Regions from separate parts of the Homo sapiens genome. Here regions 1 and 3 are each linked to region 2. Evidence: fine-mapped expression QTL. A gene starts in region 2. Each other region holds a variant in brackets. All regions are shown on one strand. Distances are from middle to middle.

Region 1 (10,598 bases), 120 kb after region 2:
AAATACAGAGGAAATCAAAGGTGAAAAACAAGAAAAAATAGATAAAAGGGAAGAAAAGAAAGAAAGAAAGAGGGAAAGAAAGGAGAGAAAAGCAAAGGAAAAGGAAAAGAAACAGAGAGAAAGCAAGCAAAGAGAGAGGAAGAAAGAGATCGAGAGAAAGGGAGAGAGAAAAGGGGAAGAAATGGGAAAGGTAGGAGAGGCAAGGAGGAAGAAAAGAAGGAAACAGTACTGATTAATATTGTTTGAACATCTGAATCCAACTATGCCTAGAATCAGATCAACCCTATACTGTTCTGTTTTGCTAACCACCCTCCCCCTCCAAAAAAAAATTCCCTAGTTTGGCTTAAGCTGGCATAAGACGAGTTTTTGTCATTTGAAATCACACGAGTTCTGACTAATACAGGGCTAGATTGTGGGGATCCTAGAGAAAGGAAACAGGAAAATATGATATCAGTACTCACTTTGTCAGACACTGCACTAAGTCCCTCGGATATCACAATGAACAAAACAACTTTTTTCCCTGCCTTCATGAAACTAACAGTTTCTTAAGCCCCAGTCACATGAGTTTCATCCCTAGTTATAAGCATCTCTTTGTGGTTTTTGTTTGTTTAATGTTGAAGTCCTACTGCCAATAGTAAATCAGAGCTAGATTTGGTCTATAACAGCATATCCAAAATTTCCTGATGAAAAGAATCACCTGGGTTACTTGCTTTAAAAAGCTCAGGCCATCCCCAGCCCACATAATTAGGAGCTTTAGGGATGTGAGCTGAGAGTTTTGTTTTGTTTTGTTTTGTTTTTTTGAGATGGAGTCTCGCTCTGTCACCTAGGCTGGAGTGCAGTGGCGCGATCTCCGCTCACTGCAAGCTCCACCTCCCGGGTTCACGCCATTCTCCTGCCTCAGCCTCCTGAGTAGCTGGACTGCAGGCGCCCGCCACCTTACCCGGCTAATTATTTGTATTTTTAGTAGAGATGTGGTTTCACCGTGTTAGCCAGGATGGTCTCAATCTCCTGACCTCGTGATCCGCCCGCCTCGGCCTCCCAAAGTGCTGGGATTACAGGTACGAGCCACCGTGCCCGGTGGGAGCTGAGAGTATTTTTAAAAGTTTGAGGCCCAGGTGATTCTTATCATCAGAGAAGTATGTGAAATGCTAATCTTGTTATTCAATATACTTTCCATGGAAGAGTGGCAATGGATTTGTTAATAATGTGGCATTTCAGATCCCTCTCCAGACCTGCTGAATCAGGATAAACCTGTAATATTTTGATACAGATAGCTTGTGTTGTCTGAGATTTTTTTCCAAAAATCAGGGGCAGGGAGAAAGAAATCTGACACAGAACCTCATTCAGAAGTGCTTTCCAACAAAATCCATTTATTTCAAACTCAAGATGGCATTAACTAAAAATTAGATATCACCTGCACTGCTTTAAGCCCATTGCCAGTGATGTCACTCTCTGTGAACTGTATCTAAGGTCTAAATAGCGCATCATACAACTCTAGGAGAGAACATTGATGCTGTGTGCATGTGGATGGCACCCTCAGGAGTTGGATACTATAGCAGTCCTGAATCCAGGCCCAACTAGAGATTCATTTGGAGTCAAGCTCTGAAGACTCAACCTGGTGGCTGCTTTGAAGTCATAAGGAGACCCACCTCCATAGCCAAGATGATTGCCATCCCAACACAGCTTGTGGACAAGTCAGGACTTCCAAACACAATGTGTTCTTTTTCTTTAAGGAGGAAACGGAGATATTACAAAATAGCAAGCATGCAATAGCATGATGCAAAGCCTAATGATAAGAGAATAGTTCTGCTTTTCTTCACCCCCTTTTTTTTTTTACATTTAGTTCATCTTCTCGGAATAGAGGGACTTGTTTTCCCAGGCTCTCACAGTGACAATTTGCCATACTCATGTGTTTGCAGATGGCAGAAGCACCATCATATGGCAACTCCTAGAAGCCCTCAGCCCTATTTTGCAGAGTTGTTGAGCACATGATGCAGCTGGTAGTCCTTTGACCTCACAAGGTACCTAGTTTTAGCAGCTACAAGTGGCAGAACTACTTAAGGTACTCAGAGTAATAAGAGCCTGGACACCAGAGCCTGCCTGCCAGGTTCACAACAGACGCCACCACTCACTAGCTATGTAACTTCAAGTAAGTTACTTAACATCTCTGTGTCTCTCTTTCCTTATCCATAGAATATGAAATGGAATTTTGTCAAAAACTGTGAGGGTCTTAAGTTTTACCCCACTTGAAAACTAACAAATTAACTTGCCACGGTTTCATTAATACTGATGAAAGACATATGACTCCAGGATCAGAGACAAAATATTACTCATACCAAACACAGTAGGCAGAGTATCAGCTTGGCCGAGTCAGTTCTCTGAATCCTGGTAGTACCACAGGTCTGCTTATATGGATGCTGGCACCCAGTGTGTTGTGTTACAGCAGAGGAATACAGGTCCAGGGGAAATTGTTGCTTTATAGCAGCCTGTAAGCAAGCCTACTCTTTGTCCCAGAGGGAGACATTAGCTCATCTCCTAAGATTATCACTGCAAATATAAGCCTGAAAAGTGTCCTGGGTAAAGAGTGCTCAAAGCTTTGTATTCGTGGCATACTCAGCAAGATGAGTAAGAGTGCAGGGGGCCCATGGAAGACTGTCTCCATCAGGTTGTTGAGTGAGTTGAGTGTGTTAACATGTGCAAAGTACTAAGAAGAGTAATAATTCTTTATAAGTGGTAATAGTAGGAGTAGTATTAGTAGTAGTATGTGAATAATAGCTGTCTATTTTTTTAAGTAACCCCATGATAATAGATGTATATATCTCATACATTATATATATATTAGATTCATATACAATATTAGTAGATATAAATGTATCAGATATAATAGATATATATTAGAGAATTTTGGAAATGCAAATGAAAACAAAGAACCCACTAAAATTTCCAGTCATACCACTATCAAGTATTGTCTACTATTTTGTTTTGTTTTTTTGTTCTCCTTTGCATATATCTGTTATTTTCCTAAATTGATATACAAGTTCTTATACAATATTTATCCTACTTTCTTTTTTATTTCATTATGAGCATTTTACATTTAGTAAATATTCATTTAATACTGATTTTAATGGCTACATAATATCCCATCATATGTATGTATCATAAATTATTTACTCATTCCTTACTGCTGGATATTTTGACCGTTTCTCATTTTCTGCTAAATACCTTCTACCCCATACAGTGTTAAATTAAATGGAATTTCAATTAAAAACAACCTAAAACATAAAATTATGTAAATCTAATTCCTGAACTATAAGTCTCTCATTAGTTGGCAATGAGTTTGTCCTTTTTCTTTAAACCACATGAAACAACATCTAATTTATCCCAAGCCTGCTTAATCTGACCTAGACACTTTTCTCATTAATAGTGGATCACTATAGCAATGAGTTTTGCAAGGGTGGACTACTAACTAGTATTGTCATAGAGGCCTATATAATTTAGGAAAACAAACTCTGGAAAATTTATGCTTCTCTGTGGAAATATGTCCCCTGTCCTTCACCCATCTTCTAACTAAATAAGTAAGCAAGAGGAAAAAAAAGCAGCACGAAAACAGGTACCAAAAACACCCACACATAAAATGATAAAATGTATATATTTTCCTGTACAAGGTCACTCAAGATTAACCTAATAACTTTTACTCTAGATCTATTAATAATTATAAACAACTTTCTCGGCAGTTAACATTTATTGAATCCTTTCAACATACCAGGCTCATGTAAAAATGAGACATATTATATGTCTGATTTTAGTCTCTGCAAATTGTGAAACATTTATAAATATTGGACAAGGATTTTAAAGGTGGGCAGCATGTATATAGTCAGGCTTACAAGCAGAAAGCTGAGAAAATACAGAAGATCTATGAAAAGTATATCTGAGTTCTAAAACCATAACCATCTTAGTGTATTTAGTATATGGGCATCCACACAGGAACATCCGAAGAGAAACTTTAACTGATAAATATTCCTTCAAGTTATCAAGAAAACACTTCATTGAAGTTTACTTTGTGAAAAACATGCATTTACTCAAGATATATTTAACAAGTATTTTCACTAATGTGCATAAAGCAGTTATCTTCATTTTTTTAAAAATGCATGTATGTGGAACCAATTTTTGTATGTGTTAAGTATGTGGAACTTTTAGTCATTGCTTTGTTGAATGGGCCACCTATGTCATTCTTTCTTTCTATTTTGTTTTCATTTCATCAAATAATTAGTTCCCTTCTCTGAAATTTTTACAGTAATGGAAGACATAGCATTGGCTAATCAAATGAAATGTAAAGAACAACAATGAAGAATAAAAACCTACAACAAGATGATACTCTAATCAGAGGACATGGAAATGGAAGAAAGTGTGTGCTATGAGATGTTAGCATATATTTCCTTTGTTTATAAGCCAAATAGGATTAGGCTTCCAGAATTTTTGGAAAGAAAATTAAATCAACGGAATTCTATTTAACTGATTGGTGTATTGTTTATTGACACTGTCTCTTCTGTTCCCTGCCTTATCTCAGTTTGCTTTAATGCTTCAGTGCCTCAACAGTTCAGTTGGAGTAAGTGCCCAGCAAATGTATAAAGCCAATTAATGCAACCCAGTTACCATTCA[A/T]ATTTGCCAAGACAAAAGAAGTGTAACCTTCTTTAAGTTCTTTGGCTTCATTAAACTTCTATTTATTTAATACTTCCATTAACAGGCAATTAATTCAAATCAAACGAGTTTGGAATGAGGATAAAAGCAGAACAGCAGCAGTGAAAGGTGAGACACAAGGGCCAAACTGTGGTGCAGAAGCTGAGGAAACTCAGGTGAGGTTAGGAGAGTCTAAATTCCTCCAAAGAGGAATACACTTTCTTTCCTAAAGTGTTTTTCTTGTTTGTTTGTTTGTTTTTTTTTGAGACGTAGTCTTGCTCTGTCGCCCAGGCTGGAGTGCAGTGGTGCCATCTCGGCTCACTGCAAGCTCTGCCTCCCGGGTTCACACCATTCTCCTGCCTCAGCCTCCCAAGTACCTGGGACTACAGGCGCCCACCACCACATCCAGCTAATTTTTTTGTATTTTTAGTAGAGACGGAGTTTCACCAGGTTAGCCAGGATGGTCTCGATCTCCTGACTTCGTGATCCACCTGCCTTGGCTTCCCAAAGTGCTGGGATTACAGGCGTGAGACACCGCACCCGGCCTCTTTCCTAAAGTCTTAAGACCATCACTAGTTGAGGAAGAGGACTGACAGCGAGTGTGATGAGTTGAGAAAGCAGTCTCTATGGGCCCCGCAGTTAGGAGAGTGAAGGCAAGAAAAGGATGTTCCTGGCAACGAATCAGTCACGTCTCTTTGTGAAGCAGGCCCTAGGGATCACCCTCCCCGGAGTAGGTCCTGACAAACTATGGAGATGGGCCAAGGAACAGGAGCAGCAATAGGCTTAGAAATGGTCTCTGGAGACCACTTAAAGTCTAAAATTTTGATGGATTGAAATGCTATCATTCTGGTAGTTAAAAGAAAATTGTCATCATAAACACTAATTTGCAAATAGCAGGCACACATACCAAGACATGTACTCATTTTTGTTCCAATATAAATGAAGAACTCTTTACTGGGCAATTATATATGAGGGAAAAGTCTTTAGCCTTGAGAAGTAACAGCTCACTCAACAGTAAGATCAAAGAGTGGCATGATGTCTTCAGCACACTATTTTAATGTTTAGCCAGGAAAAAACAAATATTCTACTAATCCTTGGTTTAGTTTCAATGTGTGACTTTCAATCTGGCTTTTGAATATAATCACTCAGTTCTATCATTATAGATATAATTAAAATGATGGAGAAATTATAGATTATGATACAAAACAGAATATGACTTTGCCCTTATGTCTCAGGCACTTTATATAGGGTATCTCATTTGACTTTCACAACAAATCAGAAAAATTGAGTAAATTACTCATTGTCCAAGTTGATACAGCTTACTGGAAAAGAAGCAAAGATTTGATTTTAAGATAGTCTGGCTTCATGTTCTATCCATTCAACCATACTGCCTTCCTTCATTTCTTGACGTAAGAAGGTGAAGGATTGACACTTCAACTGGAAGAGACACAAACCATGGATTATCTTTCCAACTGAGGCATAAATGCATTTTCATAATACAAAGACATTAGGAAAATCTTTAAAGGAAGTGAGAAAAGGCCCTATCCACTGGAAAACTTTCTTGATCTTCCAAATATTTCCAAAATACTGGGGATTCCACATCCAGTCAGTAGGAACCAAATACCAAAGAACTGATTTTCCACATGGCAGGGGATTCCTCAGTCACCACCTTTATTTTCCCCTTCTCAGCACCAAGAAATATTACACCACAGAAATGTATATATGGAATATTTAAGATATAAAATGTGTATTAAAAAACAACAAATAGTCAGGGACTCACCTCCCAACTTAAGAAATACCACCTTGCAAAAATTTTGGAAGTCTCTGAGAACTGATCTTTGATCACAGCCCACTCACTCTCTCACAGAATAACTATTACTATAAATTTCATGCCTATTTCCATATATTTTTATACTTTTACTCCATCTGTATACATTCTTAAACAACATATACCATAGTTTTTTCATGTTTCCAAAACTAAATGTAAATGGGTTCATATAGTATAAATTCTTATGCAACCTATTTTTTTTTAATTAAGTTCTGGGATATATGTGCAGAACGTGCAGGTTTGTTACATAGGTATGCACGTGCCATGGTGGTTTGCTGCACTAATCAACCCGTCATCTACATTAGGTATTCCTACTAATGCTATCCCTCCCCTAGTCCCCACCCCACGACAGGCCCCGGTGTGTGACATTCCCCTCTGTGTCCCTGTGTTCTCATTGTTCAACTTCCACTTATGAGTGAGAACATGCAGTGTGTGGTTTTCTGTTCCTGTGTTAGTTTGCTGAGAATGATGGTTTCCAGCTTCATCCATGTCCCTGCAAAGGACAAGAACTCATTCTTTTTTATGGCTGCATAGTATTCCATGGTGTATATGTGCCACATTTTCATTATCCAGTCTATCATTGATGAGCATTTGAGTTGGTTCCAAGTCTTTGCTATTGTGAATAGTGCTGCAATAAACATACATGTGCATGTGTCTCTAAAGTAGAATGATTTCTAATCCTTTGAGTATATACCCAGTAATAGGATTGCTGGGTCAAATGGTATTTCTGACAACCTATTTTTTGCTTTTCCTTTTTTCTTTTTTTTTTTTTGAGACAGAGCCTCGCTCTGTTGCCCAGGCTGGAGTGCAATGTTGTGATCTTGGCTCACTGCAACCTCTGCCTCCCACGTTCAAGTGATTCTCCTCCTGCCTAAGCCTCCTGAATAGCTGGGATTACAGACATGTGCCAACATGCCCAGCTAATTTTTCGTATTTTTAGTAGAGACGGAGTTTCGTCACGTTGGCCAGGCTGATCTTGAACTCCTGACCTCAGGTAATCCACCCACCTTGGCCTCCCAAAGTGCTGAGATTACAGGCGTGAGCCACTGCACCCGACCTCTTTTTTTTTATATATCAGGATTTATAATAACATTTCCACTACATTATTCTATTGTATCAATATATACCCATTTTCCTATTTACAAACAGGATTGCTTTGCCATTACAAGAAATACTGTTCTAAATGTCCTCATCTATTTCTACACATAAGAATTTCTCTGAGCTACATTTAGAAGTGAAATTTCTGGATCAAAGGATATATGCACCTTCAACTTAACTAGACATTAAAAAAGGAGTTGTACAAGTTCACAATCCCTCTCTCTTCCCATTTTTTCAAACAGATACTACCAAATATAAATTTCTACTCTAACAATGTTTGGTTCCAAGTGAATCATCATTCCAGCAGACATTTTTTAAAGTTTGCTTGCCTTTTTCTCTACAATTATGTTCCACCTCCTCAACCCAAGTAATTAGCTAAGGTAATCAGGCCAGAGTCCAAGCTGATTACCAGTAATTAAATGTAGCTTTTCTTATCTTCAGTGTGTCCATACTGAAAAATAAAGATATCTTTCCTCTTCTTGAGGGCAATTTGGCAGTATCTGCCAATAGCTCTAAAAATTGCTTACTCTCTGACTCAGAGATACCTAAAAATTTACTTTAAGAACATATCCAGAGGTATACATGAATATTTGTATATTAAAATATTTGTCTTAGTGTTAATTTTGATGTTCATTGCAATGCTGTTGGTCCAAACAAGCAAAATGTCCATCAGGTAGGAACTAGTTAAATAAAAGGTTGTATATATTCACGTAATTGCCCACTAAGTGGAAATTAAGAAGAATGAGGAGGATACATATGTACCAACAATATTGTTTTAGTTATTGATTGCTATATAGCTAAACATTCAAGTGTAAAGCAATTACTTATTATGTTTCACATGCCATAGAAAGACTAGAGGTGGTCTTCTGTTCCTTGTGCCGTTGTCTGGGGTCACTCATAGTGCTGCATTCAGCTGGCAGCTGAAATGGGGCTGGAACATCCAGGAAGACTCACTAACACATCTCTCAGCCGGTTGCCACCTGGAACAACTTCGGTTCCTTTCCATACAGATTCCCCTCATTCAGAAGGCTAGAACCACTTCCTTACAGCATGGTAGTGGGTTTCAAGAGGGAATGAACCAAGAGAACAAGCCCTAGCTTACAAATTCCTGTCAAGTCCCTGCTTGCATCAAGCTTACTAGTGTTTCACTGGCCAAAGCAAGACAGACAGATGGCCAAGCCCAGACACAATTTGGGAGAAGACTGTACAAGGGTGCATATTCCAGGAGGCATGGTTTTTTGGGGATCATCAGTTTAACAGTCTACCGCAATTACTGTGAAAAAAGAAAAAGAAGAGTAAAATAGGATAACCATTGTTTTAAGTGTTTGCACAGAAAATATGTGGAAGAATACATATCAAATAGTGTTTGAAACAGCGGAGTGAAATTTGCATGGGAAGTAGTAGTAGGAAACGTGAGATTTTTAAATTCATGTATGTATGTGTGTTTCTTGATTTTTTATAATAATCATATACCTAAATATCCATATACATATATTTATATATATAAGAGACAGGGTCTCACTCTGTTGCTCAGGCTGGAGTGCAGTGGTTGTAATGAGCAATCACAGCTCATTACAACCTTGAACTCCTGGGCTTGAGTGATCCTCCTGCCTCAGCCTCCTAAGTAGCTGGGACTACAGGTGGGTGCCAGCACACCCAGCTACTTCTTTTTTTTTTCGTAGAGACGGGGTCTCACTATGTTGCCCAGGCTGGTCTCAAATTCCTGACCTCAAGTGATCCTCCCACCTTGGCCTCCCAAAGTGCTGGGATTACAGTTGTGAGCCAACATGTTCAGCCTAATAATCATGTGTTTATAATTTTAAAACTATGAAAGAAAATGAGGTTGTAGAAGAATAATTATATAGGAGAATGTTTATAATATGTCCATTTAAAAAATGTTAATGGTTATTTTAGAATAAGGAATTGTGAGCAACTGATTCTCTTCATCATGATTTTCTGTAACTTCTATACTTTGTATAAGAAATACACACAAATCTTAAAATCAGAGAAAACAATAAAGAGGAAATAGAACCAACTCAAACCACTGACCATATCTTTCTTATTCCCCACACAGGTATTTCCACATTATTGCAACATCATTTTGTTGACATATTATATTATCAAGATGTTCACATGTCTAGCTGTAATAAAATAAAAATTTCCCAGTGACTTTATGTGCTAATCTATTCTCCATCGTGTTTTGCAACTTAATAAGATCATGAAGCAACTGTACTCTGCTATATGATGATGGGTTTTTCCAAATGTGCATATTGGATTTCCCAAATTTGAATCCATATTTGCTAACTTATGAGGCAGTTTCCCCAGTTGTTCACAGCATTAATCATGCCTTAACCATGTCATCAGTCCTTTGACAGCAAGGAAAAAGTGCATTTCTTTTGTATATTGTGTCTTGAGTATAGATTTCCCCCACCCCCACCACATTCAATTTTTTAAAAATGCACAAACAAATCCGATCTTCTGTGGATCTTCATCTATTTTTTTAAAATGGGCATCATTAATATAATCTAGTCCCATTTAACTGGATGTTCAGTACTCTACGTGATGGCAAAAAATCAAGATCATTTTTCCCTGCTTCTAATAAGGAGATATTTTTATTTTTAATTTAACATTATGTTTAAAAATATGTCCATCATAATTCATGAAGATCTAGTTAAATTTAACTTTGGTTTATTATTATTTATATAAACTTTAAAACACAAAACAAATTTATGTGATGTTTATGGATACATGGCACGTGTAGTGAAAATAAACTATGTAGGCACAACACATTTGGGATGGTGGTATTCCAGGGACAAAAGGAATAGAAAGGGTTGGGGATAGAGATTTCTTTATATACCTATAATTTTTTCATTAAAAAGAGAGTGCAAACTGAAAGAATGGTTAGATCTCGGTAGTGGAAAACCGGCATCTGTTATATTATTTTCTGAATGCTGAAATATTTTATAATTACAACATTTTAAATTGGAAAAGTAGA
Region 2 (10,598 bases):
ACCCATATTTTCTACCAAGAAAGCTGAAGATGAGAGCCCCTTCTCTCCTTTTCCCACACCCAGAAAGCCAGTGTACTAACATATGATGAAAATTCTGAAAACTAGATATTCCCAACAAGGATTTTGAATCTTGAGCAAGTGATCCAAAGCAAAGGGAGGATTCAAAGTTGTTCTTAAGAGTTAGACACTTCCTGCTACTGCTTATGCCTCCGTGTTTTCTGGCCTTGGTTAGTCGTAGTCTCCCAGCTTCCTGCTGATTCTGTGATTCTGTGGGCTCCCAATTTTCTTTCAAGAATTTCCTTTTTTTTTTTTTTTTTGAGACTGTGTGTCATTCTGTTACCCAGGCTGGAGTACAGTGATGTAATTTCAGCTCATCGCAACCTCCACCTCCAGGGTTTAAGCAATTCTCATGCCTCAGCCTCTCACATAGCTGGGGCTACATGTGTGTGCCACCATGCCAGGCTAATTTTACATTTTTAGTAGAGACGGGTTTTGCCATGTTGGCCAGGCTGGTCTCGAACTCCTGACCTCAGGTGATTCTCCTGCCTTGGCCTCCCAAAGTGCTGGGATTACAGGTGTGAGCCACCACACCCAGCCAATAGTTTCCTTTTTTACTTAGAACAGCCATAATCTGACTCTTTACTTGAAACTAGAAGTCATCACAATATGAGATAATTGAGGAGAATCAGAGCTCTGATTTCTGCCTGCTCATGAATTCCCTTGAAAAAGTGAGGTTGGTTTCTTTGCCAGTCTTTGTCTCAGTTTCCACATTTGTAAAATGGGGCTAGCTCTGTAGCATGCTTCGAGGAAAATTAATCTGTGAGATGTTCTCTCATACAGGTTTCTTCCTTTGGAGAATCTAATGGCATGCTGCTCTATTGAGTTTCCGGAAATTCCTCTAGTAAGGGATTTAATTTGACTTTAATTCAGCATTTCCCAAGCTTAATCATGGAAGTCTTGTTTCAGAAAACATTAATATCTCACAGATTGAGTCATCCATAAACTATCTTGGCAAGAGACACTGGCTCCAGCAGTTCATTTTTCTTTGAATTTGCACCTGACACTGATCTCTGTTATTAAACACTCATGAGGCCTTTAAGGAGTCTCTGTATTAACCCATTAAAGTAGGAAGTTCTTAAACTTCAGAGCATATAAAAACCATTTGAGGACCTTGGTATAATGCAGATTGCTGAGCACCATACAAGATCTACTAATTCAGAATCTCCTGGAATAGAGACAAGGAATTAGAACTCAGAATTACTCTATGGGGGATTGTGTTGTATGCAGTCTTCAGTCTACAGTATGAGAAACACTGTCTTATGTAACAATTCAGTGAAAAATACCTTCAAGCAATTTATGTACTTTATCATTAGAAGAAGCTAGAGGTCATAGTCACAATAATATATCTCACTGGTCTGACCATTAATCATCTTCTGAGATGTCTCAGGCAAGCTTATAGATAACTTGTGAATACCCACCCAAAACGTACTGAATGGCTCTGATCCCAACTTCAAAAAGATGTAACATTAAAATTCAAATGTGTCTGTAGGTGCCACTATGAGATCAATAATTTGGGCACATCTAGTTAAAGTGTGAATAGCCACAGCTGTATGTGGTGTCTTACACCTATAATCCCAGCTACACAGAAGGCTGAGGTGGGAGGATAGCTTGAGTTCAAACTTGAACCAGGAGTTCAAGGCCAGTTTGGGCAACATAGTGAGATAGCAAGATTCCATTTCTTAAAAAACAGTCTGAGTGTCTCCCTCACTCCTGCTACCTATCTATAGCTTATTCATTCTCACCATAAACTCACTTAGTGAGAAATCAAGGTTAAAGGAGTAGGGAAGAAATTTAAGTAATTTAATTTTATGACTTTTTAGTAACTCAGCTCAAAGACTCTAATGATAGGAAGCCTGGAATGAATAACTAAAATGTTATTTTTAGACTATCTGTGAATTTCATTTCCTCTCATTACCACAAATGATGAAAAATTAGCTGTCAGAAATTTCAAAGCAATATAGCAGAACATGATGGAAAAACAAATTAATCAAGTCACCATCTTCCGAAACATTTTTCCTTTATTAGAATTCTTCAGGTAATATGACGAAGATAACAATACTGCATTTCTTTAAAATATGCTGTACATTTCCTCATAGGAAAAAGGGTGAGTTATGGTGACCAGTGACATTAACTGGAAACAAGCAAACTTTTGGTTCCTGGGCCACTAGTTGTATTTACTTTAAGAAAACCCTAAAGATGATTTGCAGTCTTTCAGAGAGTTTACTTTTATGTTTACAGCCCAAAATGTGCAGATAACTTGTTTGTAAATAACTGGCAGGGGTCACAGTGTCACATCTAGGAGATTTCATTTTATTTTATTTCGACAACCAGAGTTACAGCCTCTTTACAACTGAGAAGTGGTAATAAATGGTATTGTGCTTATTCTTCAACAACTCCATAGCACTGGCACCTGACATATATTTGCATGAATTTCATGTAACAAAATGTAGAAATCTTTCTTTCTAAAGGGCTTCAAAATTTCCCGAAACAGACTTCTGAACTTCATTTTATTCCTCTTGCTACATGGTTGTTCTGGATTAGTATATATATCAACACCTAAAAACAGAGTTACAAAAATTAGTGCATACCTCATCAATTTCATAAAGTTACATCCTTTCTTGTTTGCATACATTTATATTTTATTTATTACTGTAACTGCCACTTACAACCCAGCAACAAAGAGTTGTATTTTAGAATATTATGGAATGGTGATATGATAGACACTTTAAAGTGTATTGACATGTCCTTATGGGAATTAGGGATTTAATTTTTTTTTTTTTTGATTGAAGCACTGCATGTCTCAAGGGTGGCTGCATTCAGTAGGTCTGTGACATAACCCCTGGAAAATACCCAGGCTGCCCAATGGAAGAGTCACTAATCAGATATTGAATATGATATTTTTGTGTTCAAATTTTCAAGTCCTCACACCCATCCTAACTAATTTTTAGGCCTTTCCTTTAAGACAACCAAAAAACAAAACTATAACTGTTCAAACTTGGAACTAAGGAAAGGAAATAAATATTAAAGCGGAGCTGGATTTATTTCTATTTATTTAGAGTACATCACCTCCAGTAGAATTATGTTGCTAAGGTTGGGATCACGGCTTTGGTCTCGCGAAGGGACCTGCTTTGCAGATCCAGGGCTCGTTTAATTTTCCAGCTGGGTTCCTGCTTTGCTTAACTAATCCTGTGCACCCCGTTGTGCGGTCCACACCTGAAAGGGGGAGTTTCGATGTTGTGGTTTATTAACCAGGTACTTTCCATTCACTCAGTCAACAGAAAGAAAGAGAGAGACCGCGCCTCCTACTTTTTTTTTTTTTTTTTTTTTAACTACAAATAAGGAGACGGAAACTATTAAATAAGAAGGGGGGAAACTCCCGCATATTTCACCTTGACCTGGCTGGACTGGTCTGCTGCCTCTAAGAGGCGGGTGTTGTATTAAAATGAGAGGTCAAACTCCTCGAATGGGAATCGCTCCTGCCCCTAGAGGGAAAAGAGAACCATCACCGTGTTAAACTGGAAACACTGCCTTGTTTCCAATGCGGGGGACTGAGTTCCCTCCCTCGACTTAGCGTGGTAATGACAGGACCCGAGGAGGCGCGCTGCTTCCGGGCAGTTGCCCAGCATAACACCCGCACCCTACTTGCACCTAAATTTCTGAGCTGCAAGCAGGCAGAAGTGCCTTCCACTTTCTCTCCTTAGCTCCCCTCTCCCCGCTTTGCTGCTGTCTGTAACTTTTTGTTCCGTTTACTGGGAAGGTGACGCTTAAGATCAAAAGACCCACTGTAACTTGCAAAAGCCCAGAGCCACCACCAGACGCTGGGGAAAAACAGGGCTGTCCAGTCCAGGGTTAAGGTTTTGAGCAGAGAAGGAGCAGCGAGAAATCTCGGCCAGTCGCTCCGGGAACAGCCCCTGCAGACTGGTCCAACTCTCCAAAGGCTAGGGACACCGGGGCAGCCTTGTGGTGGGGTAGAGGACGAGCTCCTAACTGCAAGCAAAGTGCTGAGTAGAGGGCGTTGGGGGCAGGGGAGGTCCCTTGACTCCACTTTGTATGCAGCAGCTGCGGGGCAGTGAGTATCTCCGAACAAAGCGGCGAGCAGCGCGGGGGTGAGAGATTGGGGTTTGCTCGCAGCTGCCGCTGGCGCTGAGCGAGTCTCCCACCACCCCCGCGAGCGTTGGGGTGCAAGGATTCGGGGGAGGAGGGAGAAGGGAACGAGGCGTGCCATTCCTGTTGCGCGGCTACGCTTCAGGAGTTCTTGTGAACGATGGGAATGGCAACTATCAGAGCCAAGGGGGAAAAGAAAGAGCTGGAGTGAGCAAAACAAAGAGCGAGTGTGGGCCGCGGTGACTTCATGCCTCACCAATGTCCCGCCCACGCTGCTCCGAGCTGTTACTGCTGCTCCTGCCCGGGCTGCAGCCGCGCCTGCGGGCAGCCGAGGCGAGGCGCTCCGGTAGCGTGGGGAGGTTTCCTAGCAACTCTCTGCCCTGAGTGCACCCGGCTACCCGCAGGTCTGGAGCCCCCCGGGGGGCCAGAGCAGGACCACCCCTCTCCCGCCCATCGCCGGCCTCGCCTCTCTCGCATCCTAGCCGTGTGCACCCCAGAGCGCGCCAGCAACTCGGGCTCTGGACTGCGGGACGCCTGAGCCGCGCACTGAGGCGAAAAGGACAAGGGCACGCAGCCCCCGCCCCGCGAAGCCGGGCTCCGGCACCTCGCGGAACCTCCCCTCCTGCGCTCGCAGCCGCAGGCCCCACTCCCCGCCAGGGAGGGAGCGGCGATGCCTCGCTCTGTGCCTGCGGGTGTCGGCGGGTGCTTCTAGGGCGCTCCCAGAGCCGCCTCCCCCTGTTGCTGGCATCCCGAGCTTCCTCCCTTGCCAGCCAGGACGCTGCCGACTTGTCTTTGCCCGCTGCTCCGCAGACGGGGCTGCAAAGCTGCAACTAATGGTGTTGGCCTCCCTGCCCACCTGTGGAAGCAACTGCGCTGATTGATGCGCCACAGACTTTTTTCCCCTCGACCTCGCCGGCGTCCCCTCCCACAGATCCAGCATCACCCAGTGAATGTACATTAGGGTGGTTTCCCCCCCAGCTTCGGGCTTTGTTTGGGTTTGATTGTGTTTGGCTCTTCGCTAAGCTGATTTATGCAGCAGAAGCCCCACCGGCTGGAGAGAAACAAAAGCTCTTTTCTTTGTCCCGGAGCAGGCTGCGGAGCCCTTGCAGAGCCCTCTCTCCAGTCGCCGCCGGGGCCCTTGGCCGTCGAAGGAGGTGCTTCTCGCGGAGACCGCGGGACCCGCCGTGCCGAGCCGGGAGGGCCGCAGGGGCCCTGAGATGCCGAGCGGTGCCCGGGCCCGCTTACCTGCACCGCTTGCTCCGAGCCGCGGGGTCCGCCTGCTAGGCCTGCGGAAAACGTCCTAGCGACACTCGGCCCGCGGGCCCCGAGGTGCGCCCGGGAGGCGCGAGCCCGCGTCCGGAAGGCAGTCAGGCGGCGGGCGCGGGGCGGGCTGTTTTGCATTATGTGCGGCTCGGCCCTGGCTTTTTTTACCGCTGCATTTGTCTGCCTGCAAAACGACCGGCGAGGTCCCGCCTCGTTCCTCTGGGCAGCCTGGGTGTTTTCACTTGTTCTTGGACTGGGCCAAGGTGGTAAGTTGTTTTGTTTTGTTTTGTTTTCTTCTCTTCCCCAAAGGTCTTGGGCTGGCACGAAGAGCTGCCCGGCCAGAGCATCCCGGCCAGGTAAGTTGCGGTCATCAGAGAACTTCAAGGGGGCGGGTGCGGGGCAGCGTCCTCCAGCACAGATGGCCTAGAGGCCAGGTGTCAAGCATTTCTGCCCTGGAGCGACAGCAAGGACTAATTATCAGAGGAGACACTCTGTGTTACTCCTAGGTGTTGAGGAAGCCCTAATAGAAAGGAATTTTGGAAAAGAGGGTGTCCTGTTTACAGAAGTCATTTAGGGGCCCTGGTCCATTCTTAAGGGCATCGTCTGTACACAATGTTCTCCCTATCTTTCTAACATTTGGGTCCACTAAGGACTAACTTGCCTTTAACTCGAGGCTGTAGATAAGTTGGTTATAATGGGAGTAGTCTTCAATTTTTGAGTCCAGAAAAAGACAGCATACAAGTTTCTGCTATCATTAGTGCTCAATCTGAATGAATTACCCACACTGGAGGGATATTAATGCTTTAAGTCATCATCCTTTCGGCTTAAAAAAAAAAAATACTATCTAATTGATCCCTCACTGAGATCAATCTCTGAGACAGAGAAGCAGAAAGAACTCTGAACCAGGATTAACAGCTTTCTGTCCAGGCAAACCATTTGTGTAAGAGCTACCTTAATGTGGAGAGGTTAACTCTTTACGAAATGCATTGTCCTCATCTGTAAAACGAGGTTTATTAATAATACCTGCCTTCTCTAAATCACAAAGGAAAGTTCAAGTCAAATAGCATATGAGAAGGTGTTTTAGGACTTTTGATTTATGAAACAAAATCAAATGTAAGGTGGTATACCAGATTGGATTGTTGGAAAATTACACAACTAAGTAATAGGACGAATCATGAGTTTAGGATGAGTTCTTAATGGTTTTCAATATAGGCCCAACATTTATTTTTGCTAATGCAGTGACTCTTGTCATACTTTCTTTTTTTTTTTTTTTAATTTCACTTTTTCTCTGTTTGGTCACCAAGTCCTTAAATTATATTAGAGCCTTTCTCTGACCTCTTGGGCTCAAGGAGAGTTTAATTAATAGTTGTAATTGTTTTGTAGGTTAAAATTTACTCCTATACTTTAAAGTGTCAAGGTTTTGCCTGAAGCTAATTAAAACAGTCAAATCATAACCTTATAAGTAGGTTTTATATATATAGATATAGAGATATATGGAAACATCCAGCTATCTTTAGGAAATTGTTGCATATACAGTTTTCTAATATTTGTTTCAGGGAGATTTGCTCAGTTATCTGAAATGGAGAAATTAGAGTAAATCTCTTTATCTTGTGGTTATTTTTTGGCTTGTTTGTTGATTTCAAAATAGTGAAAAGGCAAAGGAAAAAGTAACATTCATTATCAGTTATCTCTTAAATGGAAGAAACATGCATTTGTTGCAGCAAATTTTCCGCTAAGCATAATTTCATCCTGTTTCAATAAGTAATAAAGTGCTTTTCTAGATTTAGTAAACACACATACACACTAGTAAAATGACCAAAATTTGTGTTAACACAGTATATTTTGTTCCCAACGTACAGGCAAAGGAAAAAGTCCTACTTGCCTCTAAAATTTACTATTTAAAGTACATTTTTAAAAACCATTAACTGTGCTTATAAACATTAGTCAGGCTCTTGTGAAAAAGCATTGCATTTCTACCCAGTGTCTAAAACTGATTTGAAGGAAATATTATGAATGGGCCTACTTGCACCTGCAGACCTGAAAAGGGAATGCTTATCTGAAATCAGAACAAGGCATCCTTTTCCCAGTCTCTGTCAATATACAAAGGTTTCTGATGTATACTGATTTGCATGGCAGTTAAAAACATGCAAAAAATGTAAATTATAGCCAGTATAACTCAGAAAATTAGAGATCAGCATAAACTGCTGTACTTTTGTGATATAGCTACAAGTCTCAAATTATATGTCTTTACAGTGCAAATTAGATGCTTAAAGCAGAATAGAAATTTAGGTATCAGTTACAATGGAAATCTTGTTTCCTTGCTCAGTAGTTTACACCAGGAGAATGTTGAGGGCAATAAAGCCATACAAAAGAGACCAGAAGCTGCATAAGACCAGCATAACTTTGGGTTTAATTTTTAAAGCAGAATTTATAGGTCTCGAACATATAGTGGACTTTTAATAACAAATATATAGTGAGCAGTGGGGGATGTTATTAATCAAATCCAAAGATTTCTGATGTAGCAAAAATTATAGCAGTTTGTTTTTTAACTGTCTCTGGTGAAGATTACCCACAGCTAGAGAAATAATAGCACTGTAAAATGGTCAATAAATAACCAGAAAAACATAAAGTATATCTAGTGGTTAATATTTGAAGAGTTAATGTAGCAACATTGTTTCCACATTTACTTATTTTAAAAGATTAAGAACTTTCATTACCTAAATTTTTATATAGCAATATAAGTGTAACAAATTTCAGATATCACAGTTTCTTTTAAAAAAGCGGTAACTATTATTGCAATCAAATTTCACCTTCTGTGTATTGCAATGAAATTTCACCTTCTGTTTATTCAAGTATCAATTATTTATTATTTTCAACAACAATCAACTAGATTAACATTATTTTGTGACCATATCATTACTTCCCCTCAAAGCGTTGCATAGCATAAGTGTTCCCAGAATTATTTATGCTTACCTAAAGTGATCGGATATTTAAAAGAACCAAGGTATCATTAACAAAAAATTCAGCCTTCTAAATTATTTGCATAATAAGCTCCCAAATTAATTCTATCTTGAAGCAATGGAGACACTTTCTGATCAATTAAAAATCATACATGTTTGCCCTCTAAACTGACAGCAAAGTAGCTGATATGCTTTGGAAAATTCCTGTGCCCCAAAATAACTTCTTCTCTTGTTACCAAATTATCTGAAATCTCACTACTTAATGGATTCTTTTTGGTTAACCATGGTATTAACCCTATGATTTTTTAAAGTTTTTAACATGGTATAATGGAAATTTTCAAATGCATACAGAATTAGAGAGAATGGTATAAGGGACCACTATATACTCATCACCCAGCTTCATTAACCATCAACTCAAAGCCAACTTCTTTCATCTGTGCTCCTGCTGGTACCCAATTCACCCCCTTCTCCCAACTAAATATTTTGAAAGAAATTTTTCATATCATTTTATTTTAAAATATTTCAGTAAATAAAAATACTACTGGAGGAGGAACACACTGTAACTAATCTTAAAGCATGAATTTTTTTAAAAACTGAAACTTAGGGCAACAAGAATGTTCACAATTTTTAAGGGAAGCAATTGCAAAAGAGAAGGACACGAGGAATGGGAAAGACACAGTTTCAACCATTTACTTTTCAATAGTTCTATTATAGTTCCATTAAAAATATTTTTATTTTGAAAGTATGGATATGTAATAGCTTTTTGATACGCATGTATATGAACAGAGAAAAACAACATGAGTAAATCTGCTTCCCGTGACAAATGTTAATTGTTTTATTCCAATGGAATCACAGCAGGTATACCTTGTAAAGTTTCAGTTTCAAGGATCTGCCTGCCCTTGCATGATTAGTTTTTCTCCTATCTACTGTATCATTTAAAGCAATATCCATATATGTGGCAAAACCTTTTTATCTCCTATTTTTTCTCTCCTTTTGCTATAAGTCCTTGAAAGAGTTGTCCGTAACTCCTCTCTCCGATTCTTCTCCTCACCTTCTCTTTGAATCCATTGTGAGCAGGCTTTCTTTATCACCTCTGCAGTCCACTCTCTTAAGATCAGGGTAACCTCCACATTGCCAGATCTGATGGCTAATTCTTAATCTCCATCCTGCTTGATGTATCATCTGTTGGTGACTTGACACTGTTGACCTTGCCCTCCTTGGAAACAGTTTTGTTGGCTTCTTGGACCCACACTCTCTTGGTTTAAGCTCCTTCTCCATCTCTGATGTTGATTCTTCCTCATTTCTTAACCTCTAAATGTAGTAGTGGCTCAGGACCCACTCCTAAGGACTTCTCTGATCCAGTCTTGGTTTTCTTTTTTTTTTTTTTTTTTTTTTTGAGACGGAGTCTTGCTCTGTCGCCCAGGCTGGAGTGCAGTGGTGCGATCTCGGCCCACTGCAAGCTTCGCCTCCTGGGTTCACACCATTCTCCTGCCTCAGCCTACTGAGTAGCTGAGACTACAGGCACCCGCCACCACGCCCGGCTAATTTTTTGTATTTTTAGTAGAGAGGGCGTTTCACTGTGTTAGCCAGGATCGTCTTGATCTCCTGACCTCGTGATCTGCTCGCCTCGGCCTCCCAAAGTGCTGGGCTTACAGGCGTGAGCCACCACACCCGGCCCAGTCTTGTGTCTTAAATACCATTTCCACATTGACACCTCCAGAATATTTATCTCTAAACCTGACCTCCAGAAGGTGCAGCAAATTGTGTAAACCATGTCTCCACTACACGCCTAAAGGCAAAGACCCTAACGCATTCAAAACCAAACTCCATTTTCTTGTCCAGTCTTCATAATCACACTGTGAGAGAGGTCCCTGTTTTTGAAACAAATAAACAGGAGCAGAGGAGATAAGTAACTTGCCCAATGTCACCTATCTAGTAAGTAGGAGAGATGGGATTTGAACATCGTAGAGAAAGCTTGAATTATGCTTCATAATATGAACTTCCTAATCAGTCTTCATCATTTCAAACCTTTGTCCACATGTTCCTTTCTACTCAGAACTTTCCCCTAGCTCCCCATTGTCTTCAGGCTCCTCATACAACTTCCTCCCAGCTTTGCTATGGACACACCCACCTGTGACCTCCTTGAGGGAAGAAGCTGCCTGTATTTTTGTGTGTCCAATGCTTGGTACACAGTAGGTCTTCACAAAGTAT
Region 3 (10,598 bases), 49 kb after region 2:
TATTAATATTCAATACAAATATTAACCCATGGTGCCTTGCAACTAAAAATATCTGGAGAGCACATGCCAGGTTAAGTTTAATCTTTATATAACAAATTCAGTTACATATAACTGTTTATAATACCTGATAGTTGGAATAGCCCAGATAGTGGTAAAGTATTAATAGAAATATATTCAACATGGCTTGTGCAAAATTAATAAAATTCTTTAGGTAAAATGGCTTTGAAAATCATATATTATGCTTGAGGAGGAGTGAATGTGGGAGGGGGTTATTGTCATGGGGCTTGTCCTACTTGGGAGGAAGGAGGAAAAGTGAGGAGCAATCATTCCCCTTCCCTTCCTTCCCCTCCCTAACATTTCCAGGCTCTGTTTAAAACCAATGGATATTGCCATTAAGCACGTGATGAAACTGAGGGTGCTGTCCCTGTCAGGGCAGGGATCCATGGTCTATCAGGACATTTCTGCTGTCCTTTTCATGTAGCCACGTCCCCATGCCAACTAGAGTTCCTTTGGTACTAACTCTGAAACCACTGATGGGAAGTGGAGATTTTCCTGGAAACCCTGAAATGGGTCATAGTACTTCATTAATTAAATCATTTCCAGGGTCACTCTAAGCCCATGTTTTGTACCCTATTCCATTTCTCCTCCAAAATTATGCCCAGGCATCTTGTCCAAAATAGTTTATAAGTGGCTCTATGATGAGATCACGTACAAAGGTTAAGTGGGGGTGTTAACTAGGGACACAATATCCACAGTGCTGCAAAAAGGTATTTCTATGTCCTCTTACTGTGGAATACTGATGCCTAGGACACCTGCCCCCAAGAGTCTTCTCCTTTATTTATAATTATATGATCCAAAGCCAACTTGAGAGCATATTATGAGGACTATCTCAAACTAATGGGCATGACATGGTAATCCAAGCTTGACCCCTTTGGTTTCCTCCTTATCAAGCAGAGCACGATTTGGGGTCAGCCTAGCTAGGTCTATTTACCTTGAATTGACTACTTAAAGCTAGACCCTCACAGCAAGCTCAAGGGTCTTGCAGTGTAAAAATATCAATTATTATTCTTGCTAGCGATTACTAAAAGGCCTGTGTATGGAAATACTCTTTTCCTCTTTATTAGAAACTTCTCTACCAAGGCCTCAGCTGACTCCGGTATACGTGCTAAGGCCAGAATTTATAGAATCCAAAATCGAGCCACAGCAGCCCACACTCTCACACCCCAACCATTTGGCAGTGCTTTCTCACAGCCTCTCTTCTTTGCTGAGGCCAGCGAGACCGGAATTTGCTTGCTAGGCTATGAGCAGCTGGTTTCTGCTGAGGGCCCTTGTGTGGCTAGCATTTGGTTGGAGGGCCCTGAATAGCTTACCTCCAAGGACTGGGCTTTTGCTGATGCTGTACAGGCCCTGGTTGTTTGCTGAGGTCACCAACCTATACCTTTGCTGGGTCCCTGGCACAATATGCTGACCATCTATTACATCTAGCAGTACCTCTGAAAACAGCCATTTATCTTTAGACAGAGCCACCATAAACTGCAACGATTCACCAAGATAAAAATACCATGATACCATGTGGCCGGTTTACAAAAACAATCTTTTTTAAATCTACAAAGATAGCAACACTTTTCATCAACAGCAGTTCACCTAGAGAGAGTCGACACTTTTTGTCTGAGTGAAAAACAAAACCAAAAAAACGCTGATCCACACATCAAGGTTCAAGTCCCTGAACATGAACCGCTCTCCCAGTAGTGTTGAATTTCTACTTCTCATCGATCTGGCCCAGTGTACCAGTGTCTAACATTCCCCTGAATTTAATTTCTCCACTCAAATTGCAGAACACTGCCACAGGAACAGTTCTTTCTGTCAACAGAAGCCCAAAAGCAGAGCAGAATATAGGATATGCTCTCAGGAGGCAGCCTAGCTTCTGAAGGCAAGGGATGAGAGAATGGACTGGGCTGGGCCATGTGTGCCCTATTTCTCCTTTCAAATATGGGCCAAAACCTAGGAGCATTACACTAAAGGGGTTGCCTGCACAGAAAAAGCAAATTAGGAATGAGTAGTCCCTTTCTCCATAATTATTATTATATACCAGCAAAACCTTATTATTTTGAATACAGTAGGTAATTTGGCTGAAAAACATCTGATTTGTGAAATAATCGAAAAGAAAATATTGCTATTTTATGCTAACACCAAAAATATAATTTGATAAATTAGAAGGTTCTTTAAATAGGTAAATTATGTATACAAATGAATGTTTATTTTAAAAATGTTTTCCATTCGGAATATTCTTATGGAAAAATAATGACTTACAAAGCATTTACTTAATAGTTTAAAAAAGTAAAATTTACAAATTACAAATTGCTTACATTTAAATAGATGCCTTTTCACCATATACTTGAAATTAAAAGTAGAGGTACCAACTCTATAGAGGGTTAGGGGGGACAACCCAAGTCCTTGTATCAAATAGTAATATGACAGAGAACTAAATAAAATTGTAGTTCCCTGCGGGGACTACCGACATTTGTCCTTGTGGCAGCCCCCTCTCCTCATCCAGTTGTTTTGCCCAAGGTGGGTGCCTCGCTCATGGGCCCCCTCCTCAGCATGTGTTCATTGAACACCTACCGTGTGTTGGACAAATGCTGACCCCTACCTTCCCCAGGTCCTCCATGTGGCACTGCAGGGCACCATTCTTTAGCCCACTGTCTCATTCCTTCACTTGGCTAACTGATGGGAAGAATCTTACCAACTAACTAGTGATGAGGTACTAATTATTTTGAATAGCTTGCTGTACTACACAGTACCAGAGTTTTCTCATCTCCTGTGTAAATACACTTTAACCCAAAGGAATAAATTTATGCCTTTATCCAATAGGAGATCACCTTTTTTTAAAGATACCTTCCCAGTTTTCCTCAAGTCATTCCACACGTACATCCCCCTCACTGTCTTGAGATCGAATGCCGCTTGCTGGTTTGCACTGTGTTTTTCTAGCTACTAAGGCAATGGAGGTTCATATAATGATACAATACCCTGTTACATTTATATGGAGCTGGCCCATTTGTTATTATCCCTATTCAGCCTATAGAATTGTGGGAAATGAACTGTAGGATTTGGAGACCAATAAATTGGTATGGTTTTCAAATTGCCTTATAATTATACTAGAATAATAATTATACTATAATTATTATAATTACACTAGCATATTCCAAATTTTATGTGCAAATTTGTGATGATTGTGCTAGGTGCTAGAATGTGACTAATTTATTAAGAGCTTATCCTGAAAAGTTTAAAATGAAGACTACATGATGTTTTTCTTCTATTGAACTAGGAGCCGAAGCTAATTTTATGCTGAAAGTTCATCCTCTGAAGAAATATCCTGTGGATCTTTATTATCTTGTTGATGTCTCAGCATCAATGCACAATAATATAGAAAAATTAAATTCCGTTGGAAACGATTTATCTAGAAAAATGGCATTTTTCTCCCGTGACTTTCGTCTTGGATTTGGCTCATACGTTGATAAAACAGTTTCACCATACATTAGCATCCACCCCGAAAGGATTCATAATCAATGCAGGTATCTAGGGTTTGATGTGGATATGCTAAATTAATTTTTTGCTTATAAAATCTCACTTTGTTTTTAATGTAAAGAACTTACCAAATTTTATATTTTTATCTTATAAAATAAGAATAAAAATATTTGGTGAGGTGGGGAGGTTTCTTCATATCTGAAAACTTCTGAGATGAACTGTAGATTGGGCTTTTTATTTTATATTTCTTTAAATATTTAGTCAGTTTTTATCACCAAAAAAAACAAAAAAACAAACAAAAAACCCTACCTAATGTTAGTAACTTTGAATGAAGCTTCAATAGTTAGGCTGCCATGTATATAAATACCTCTTTGGAAATTCTGTATTTTTATTTTTTGATTGCTCCAAAATTGCTGAATTATGATTTGACACATTTTAAAGAGTTTGTGCCAACACGTCATCTATCTCTCCATTACTGTACTGTGACTGGGGATAATGATGTTGTCTCCGATGTGACTACAAAGAAATCTCAGTTATCACAAAGAAAGTGGGTCAAAAGATGAGAATTTGATTGCTTAGAAAGAGCCTTTTTTCTTATCATTTTAGATTTCTGATTCTAAATAACATATGTCCCACTATGAAAGAAGAATTAGCCTTAAAAATACAAGTGTCTCACACAATATTGCCATTAGCCTGTGGAATTTTCAGAAAAATAAATCTGTATGGATCTTTTTTCACAAAAGACTTTATCTTTCTTGCTTCTACAAATTGCTTAGATTACTTTACAATACACATTCCAATTTACCGAAACAGCTCTGTCATCTGTTGTACCGGAACAGGATTGATGCATCCATCAATGGAGTTTCATAAGCCTTCTTGAGGTGAATGTACAGGAGGAATCATTCTTACTTTCTGGGTATCATAGATTCTCAAAATAATTTTAATGAATATTGATTGTTCATCAATAATTCCACCAAGCATCACTTTAAAAATTAGTGCAGTATTAAAAAAAACTAATATCATATTTCAACTAAATTCCTCAAAAGCATTTTCCAGAAGTGTTTCTCAGCTGTTCAATGATAAGAAATCACTGCACATTCTTATATTCACCTTAAAAATTCACAGCGCAGATTAAATATTGAAAGCCTTTAACTGTCCTATATTAAAAAACATGTTTAATCATCTTTATTTTTTTGAATACCAAATGCTTATAGTCTTATTTCCTATTTGCAAAGAAATTGTCATCAGCATTGAGCTTATCTCTAATTTTATAAGCATAGATTTTCGTCGTATAAAGTTTCCCTGGCACAAAAGAAGTACTCCCTTTTCACACAACTGTACAATTTTACTGTTAAGTATTCCAGAATGCTTAAGAAGAGCAAAATAAACTTTACACTTCTTCTTTTCCCACACAGTGACTACAATTTAGACTGCATGCCTCCCCATGGATACATCCATGTGCTGTCTTTGACAGAGAACATCACTGAGTTTGAGAAAGCAGTTCATAGACAGAAGATCTCTGGAAACATAGATACACCAGAAGGAGGTTTTGACGCCATGCTTCAGGCAGCTGTCTGTGAAGTAAGACGTTTCACATGATCGAGTGTTTGCTAAGATGCCAAACTTTCAAAGAATTTAGACGTTTTATTTTCTCTTTGATTTGTGGAGTGAAAACGTAGTGTAGAAGAAAACATATCTTACTATCTCTTACTCCTCACCAAGGTGATTCATTTCGGTATGTGTTTGGGACAGAGGGGCTAAATTCAGGGAGGGATTTAAATAGGAAAAGACAAAAGGGAAAGAATAGGTTATGAACGCGAAAATTCTTTCCAAAAGGGCTGCTTTTCTCATGCGCCACACTCCAAGGAGGAACTAGAAGTAGACTGTTGCCCTCCTCACTTCAGCTTGTTCTCCTACTTTTTTTTTTTTTGAGACGGAGTCTCGCTCTGTCGCCCAGGCTGGAGTGCAGTGGCGCCATCTCGGCTCACTGCAAGCTCCGCCTCCCGGGTTCACGCCATTCTCCTGCCTCAGCCTCCCGAGCAGCTGGGACTACAGGCGCCCGCCACCACACCCGGCTAGTTTTTTGTATTTTTAGTAGAGACGGGGTTTCACCGTGTTAGCCAGGATGGTCTCGATTTCCTGACCTCGTGATCCGCCCGCCTCGGCCTCCCAAGGTGCTGGGATTACAGGCATGAGCCACCGTGCCTGGCCTCTCCTACTTTTTAATCTATATTGTTCTTCCTCCAGTGGAACACTAGAAATCTCTAGCCAGGAACTAGTGTGGTCACATGGCTGTGGGAAAATAGAGGATGTACAAATAAAAGTTAAAGCTATTTACGCAGCAG[C/T]GTTGTACCCACGCACATCGTTCTAGCCTGACTTACTGTTCGTCAACTCAAACGTAATGTTTACTTGAGGTAAAAACCACAGTACACATCTGTGTTATTGTACAAAGTCTAATTACATGTTTATTTTTAAGAGTCATATCGGATGGCGAAAAGAGGCTAAAAGATTGCTGCTGGTGATGACAGATCAGACGTCTCATCTCGCTCTTGATAGCAAATTGGCAGGCATAGTGGTGCCCAATGACGGAAACTGTCATCTGAAAAACAACGTCTATGTCAAATCGACAACCATGGTAATGCAGCAGTAACCGCTTAGTAGATATGACTCTTTTGGTTAAAGTACAATTTTAAATTGGCAACTCAACTATTTTTGTACCAGGAAATTACCTACAAAAGAAAGATACAGAACAAGGATAAGCCATGAGAGAGAATTTATGGAACAGTGCAATCTATAAATACTGATCAATAAAATATATGAATAAAACAGTTTGACAGTTTCTAGTAGCTGACTCTTTGATGAATGACAAAGCACTGTATAATTTTTGAAAATAAAAATGATACAAGATTTTACTTTTTATGTAATTCTAAGACAGGGGAAAAAAGTATACCTTTGCTTTATACAAATAGACCAGGTCTACGGGGTCGATATCTACAAACATTTTAAGGAGGAAACCTCACAGTACAATAGGTAGAAACTAAATAGAAACCAGGGAAAAAAGACAAGAGAGAAAGAGAGTCAAACAAAGCAGGCTTTCTCTGTTTTGTACTTTACCTCTCTGCATCTTATCTATTTAAGGTCTCTTTTTAAATCAGTGACTATCTGGCTTGCTTCCTGAGGGTTAGTATAAGCTCTGAATCATATATTTAATATAATCACCTAGAACCATATCTTCCCTGGCATTATCTAATTCTAGTTGTGAAGAATCAACAGTCCAAAGCATCATTTACTTCTGATGTTGACACTTATTTATATATTCTTGCATATGTTAAAACAGAACCTCTCCAACTTTCTCAGTTCATGAGACCCTAGTCTCTCAGTGATTTTATTCCATGACACCCGTGGGTCAAAAGAAATACCTAATAGTTCTGTTTTTTTAAGTGGTTAAGTCCAAATAACTCAACTATTTATGTCTTAACAACTTAGTATCTCCTTAAAAATAATACAAATGTATCAAGTGTAGAGATACATGTTTCAGTTTTAGTAAGTAACTTCAGAAATTTTCAAATCCTGAAATCAGATTGGTCATCACTACCCTGATTTCTTCTTCCGTGTTGATTTTCAAGTTGACCAGCTTGGTAAAGATTAATGTCATTTAAAAGAATAGAACGAAATGTAATCTTAAAACTATGAACTCCCTCCAACTAGTTCTTCATTGGTACCTGATACATGCTGAATGTCACTGTATTTCTCTTGAAGATTTAAATTATTTCCTGCCACCCTTGGGAGTGTGCTGCAGTGCACCAAGACACCTCACACACAGTTTGGGAATCACAGTATCAGAAGCATGAAAATTATGCTGAAATTTGTGTGGTTCCCATGGGTAAATTTTAAGTAGATCACCAGTTCATCTGCAATACCCTACCAGATCTGTTGAAATTCTAGAGTGGCAATTGTATTACCATATGAAACAGGTTCAACACTTGGTCATTTTAGTTTCTTGAAAGTAGTATCAAAATATAAAGATTTTAAAAGGTAACTAGAGATTGAATTCAAAAATTCAAGAATTGGAGTTATTCCAATAGTGTCTTTCCATAATTCTCTTCTACTCAGCCTTATTTCACTTTGACAGACCCACCTACTTCTACTTAGTCATTTCTTATCTATCTTTCCTTCTATTTAACCTCTTTTGATTGATGGTAGAGTTCTAATTTATTTATTGGGGAGTAGGAGAGGGTACAGGAAGAATTATTCTATTGTGAGACAAAGAGAAGGTTTTTATTTTTTTAAGAAGAAAATAACAATGACATTATTCTCAAATTGTATTATTCTTTTGAAGTTTTGCCAAGTCACTGAAGTCATCTCTCCATAATTGTATTTAAAAGGATACTATTGCTCATCTAGGGAGGATTTCCTAGGCAAAGAAATGCTGTCATAATTTTAGGCATATACCATGTTATAGAACCTTATGGAAATAAGTTATAAGTCCAGTGGAATTTTAGATAGGGCTTGGATTCTTATGACATCAGGAAATTGGATGATTACATCAAGACCTTTTACCTTCTTGGTCATTGTTCCCAGTATTTAAAGGAGTGACCCTTCCACATGTCACTGCTGTAGTATATTGAGTAATCCAAGGAATAATGTGTTTGTTAACACCTTAGAAGGATACTTTTATTTTATTTACCCCAGGTCTTTGTTTTAAAGGATTATCTTCCTAAAAATTCTCATTCCCTTCATTTGTAGGGTCACTGCCTACATATTAGGTAAAAGAAGCTGAAGCATTTTGATTGATCCCTTGGCCATGAATTTATACATTCAAGATGTGCTCCTGCTTTGGAATGTTCTATATTGAAAGCTACCTTGACTTTGACTCTAGGCATATTTATTTGTGCATTTCAAAATGACCTCTATCCTCCCCTATTTGGCCATTATGGAGGAATTTTAAATTTTGTTTAAGACAAGTAATCAAACACTTTGCTTCTTGGCTTTATCTCCAGCAGCCAATGCCAATAATGTTGAATGGTATCTGAGTTTCTTGATTCAAGAGTCTTGGGGTTTGTATTTATAAAAGGAAACAACTGATTAAAAAACCCTTTATATGTCTAAATTACATGGGACAGAGTTCTGTTGCTTATACATATAGCTATTTCCTGAAGGTCAATGTGAACCCTAGACTAATAACAACTGCCATTTTATTGAGTATGTATTCAACTGAAAGCACTGTAGCAATCACTCTGCATACAGCATCAAATTTATCTTTACAACAACTCTATAAGGTAGTCATAATTAGCCTCCTTTTACAAACAGCAGGACTGAGGGTCAGAAAAGCTAAGTAAGTTGCCTGAGAATAAACAGCTAAAACATTAATAAATTGCAGAGTTGGCCCTAGTCTGTCTCAATCTTATATTAAAATCTGCATTCTTTACTTTGCCACAGTCTGTCGACTGAAATGCAGAAGAAAAAGAAAAATAATGTTCTTGTTGTCATTTCTTGTCTTTCTGGTTGCAGTCTTATGAAAGTATAACCAGATGATTTGACTTGCATAAGTTGTAAAACAACATATAAAATAATTTATATTTACACATTGTGATATTTGTATATGGTTGCTGGCAAATGATGTTACACTATTGAATAAATTACATTTTCCACTGCTTTTTCATCAAGATCAAGTGCCAGAATAAAAAACTGTAGCAATAGTATAGTTTTATGATTTATCCAGTGATAATGACAATTTGAAATGTGACATTCTTTCTAAAATGGCAGATGTTAATACAAAAATTATTAATGATGTAGTAGACTATTAATACTGAGGGTTTGGAATTTCACCCTGTCTCCCCACCCAGCTTCTCCAGGGTTATTTCTACCCTTAGTCAGAGCCCTCCCAGAAACTGTTCACCCACCCCTTGGTGGAGGCCAAGAATAGCATGAAGGTCTTCAGTAACAATGAAAGAAGACCAAGGAACAAGTATGTGGAGGTCATCCAATGAACCTTATCAATGGGATTTTCAGATGTTGATGTGACTCACAGTTTTAAATAGCGAGATTCAAATTGGCAAGATCCTACCACATTCCTATTGTATGTACTAGTGCATACCATATATTCACTAGTATTTACTGGTTTAGGCTTGGTGTTTTTCCATGCAGCCTTTTATATGCCTCATCACATTATGGCCAGTGATTCTTTATCCCTCCTATCATATACCTCCTCAGAATCCCCTTACTGCTGGCTTCATAGTTCATTCCTTTTCCTGCAGGCTCATTTGGATAGGCTAGCTGCTGAGTCGATCAGCATCTTATAGCATGGAGGCAGAATTGCAGAAGGCCTATCAGGCATTAAACAGTTTTGCTTTCTCACTGGCAAAAATAGTCAACACTGTGCCTCTCCTCATGCAACTTTAACATGTACTTGACTTTTAAGTATGCCATTTAGGAAGCTTTCTTTTTACTATGAATCTTATCTACTTGGAATTATACTTAATTTTTCCAGGACTGCAGATGAATAAAGAGAGCTTAAGAAGCTACTTTGCTAATGTAATCCATAACTTTGCTACCTGAGTTAACAAACGTTCATAACACTATTACATTTATTCTTTCTGAAAGGGATATTTCTGACATTTTCAAAGTCTGGAAAACATTTATAACTAATGTTGAGATCAGACAGAATTCCATGTGAGGAGATAATTGTGATCTTTTAATAAAGAGATCTGTTAATTTTGTTTGCTGTTTCCCGACAGAGACGTGGCCTTTTCTACTTCAGAAAATGTTAAATCTTTTTCTGCTTCTCAGGTTTGTCTCAGATGCATACTAATAAAAATGCAAATTCATGGAACACTTATTTTGTGCCAGGTATGGAATACAACTAGAAAGTTTTAAGTCCATGTGCAGCTTTTAAAAACGATTGTTCCATCTTTTGGGGCATCGAAAGACTACAAAGTACCTGATTTCAGCTTGCTGAATGATCTGCTTCAAATTGTAAACACTATGAGAACATTTTTTTTTTTTTGAGACGGAATCTCACTGTGTCGCCCAGGCTGGAGTACAGTGGCACCATCTTGGCTCACTGTAACCTC

Which allele goes with the higher level. Alleles are on the strand shown, and positions count from the first base shown. SD is a standard deviation of normalised expression in the study named. Not every link is listed here.
For the expression in pancreas of the gene that starts at base 4,660 in region 2, C is the low allele of the variant in region 3 and T is the other (large effect, 1.2 SD a copy in GTEx).

What was found. PIP is the estimated chance that this variant, and not a neighbour inherited with it, causes the effect.
Region 1: its variant is fine-mapped to the expression of ITGB8 in whole blood (TOPMed, PIP above 0.99).
Region 3: its variant is fine-mapped to the expression of ITGB8 in pancreas (GTEx, PIP above 0.99).

What each region holds. Positions count from the first base shown.
Region 1 is chr7:20,448,917-20,459,514 of GRCh38, forward strand. No RefSeq gene overlaps it. Among named protein-coding and RNA genes, the nearest start is that of ITGB8-AS1, 120 kb to the left of the region's middle. The variant A/T (reference allele first, on the strand shown) is at 4,660.
Region 2 is chr7:20,326,241-20,336,838 of GRCh38, forward strand. ITGB8 (integrin subunit beta 8) reads left to right here and starts at 4,660. Exons shown (of 14, transcript NM_002214.3): 1 at 4,660-5,693. The coding sequence starts at 5,567. It overlaps ITGB8-AS1 (ITGB8 antisense RNA 1), which reads right to left and starts at 5,522. Exons shown (of 3, transcript NR_110120.1): 1 at 5,410-5,522; 2 at 3,127-3,273; 3 at 2,061-2,616. RefSeq lists enhancers at 3,281-3,893, 3,981-4,050, 4,151-4,440 and silencers at 4,521-4,910, 5,381-5,620.
Region 3 is chr7:20,375,726-20,386,323 of GRCh38, forward strand. ITGB8 (integrin subunit beta 8) reads left to right here. Exons shown (of 14, transcript NM_002214.3): 4 at 3,326-3,572; 5 at 4,941-5,106; 6 at 6,002-6,160. LOC124900239 (small nucleolar RNA SNORD56) reads left to right here and starts at 1,606; the gene lies at 1,606-1,676. The variant C/T (reference allele first, on the strand shown) is at 5,871.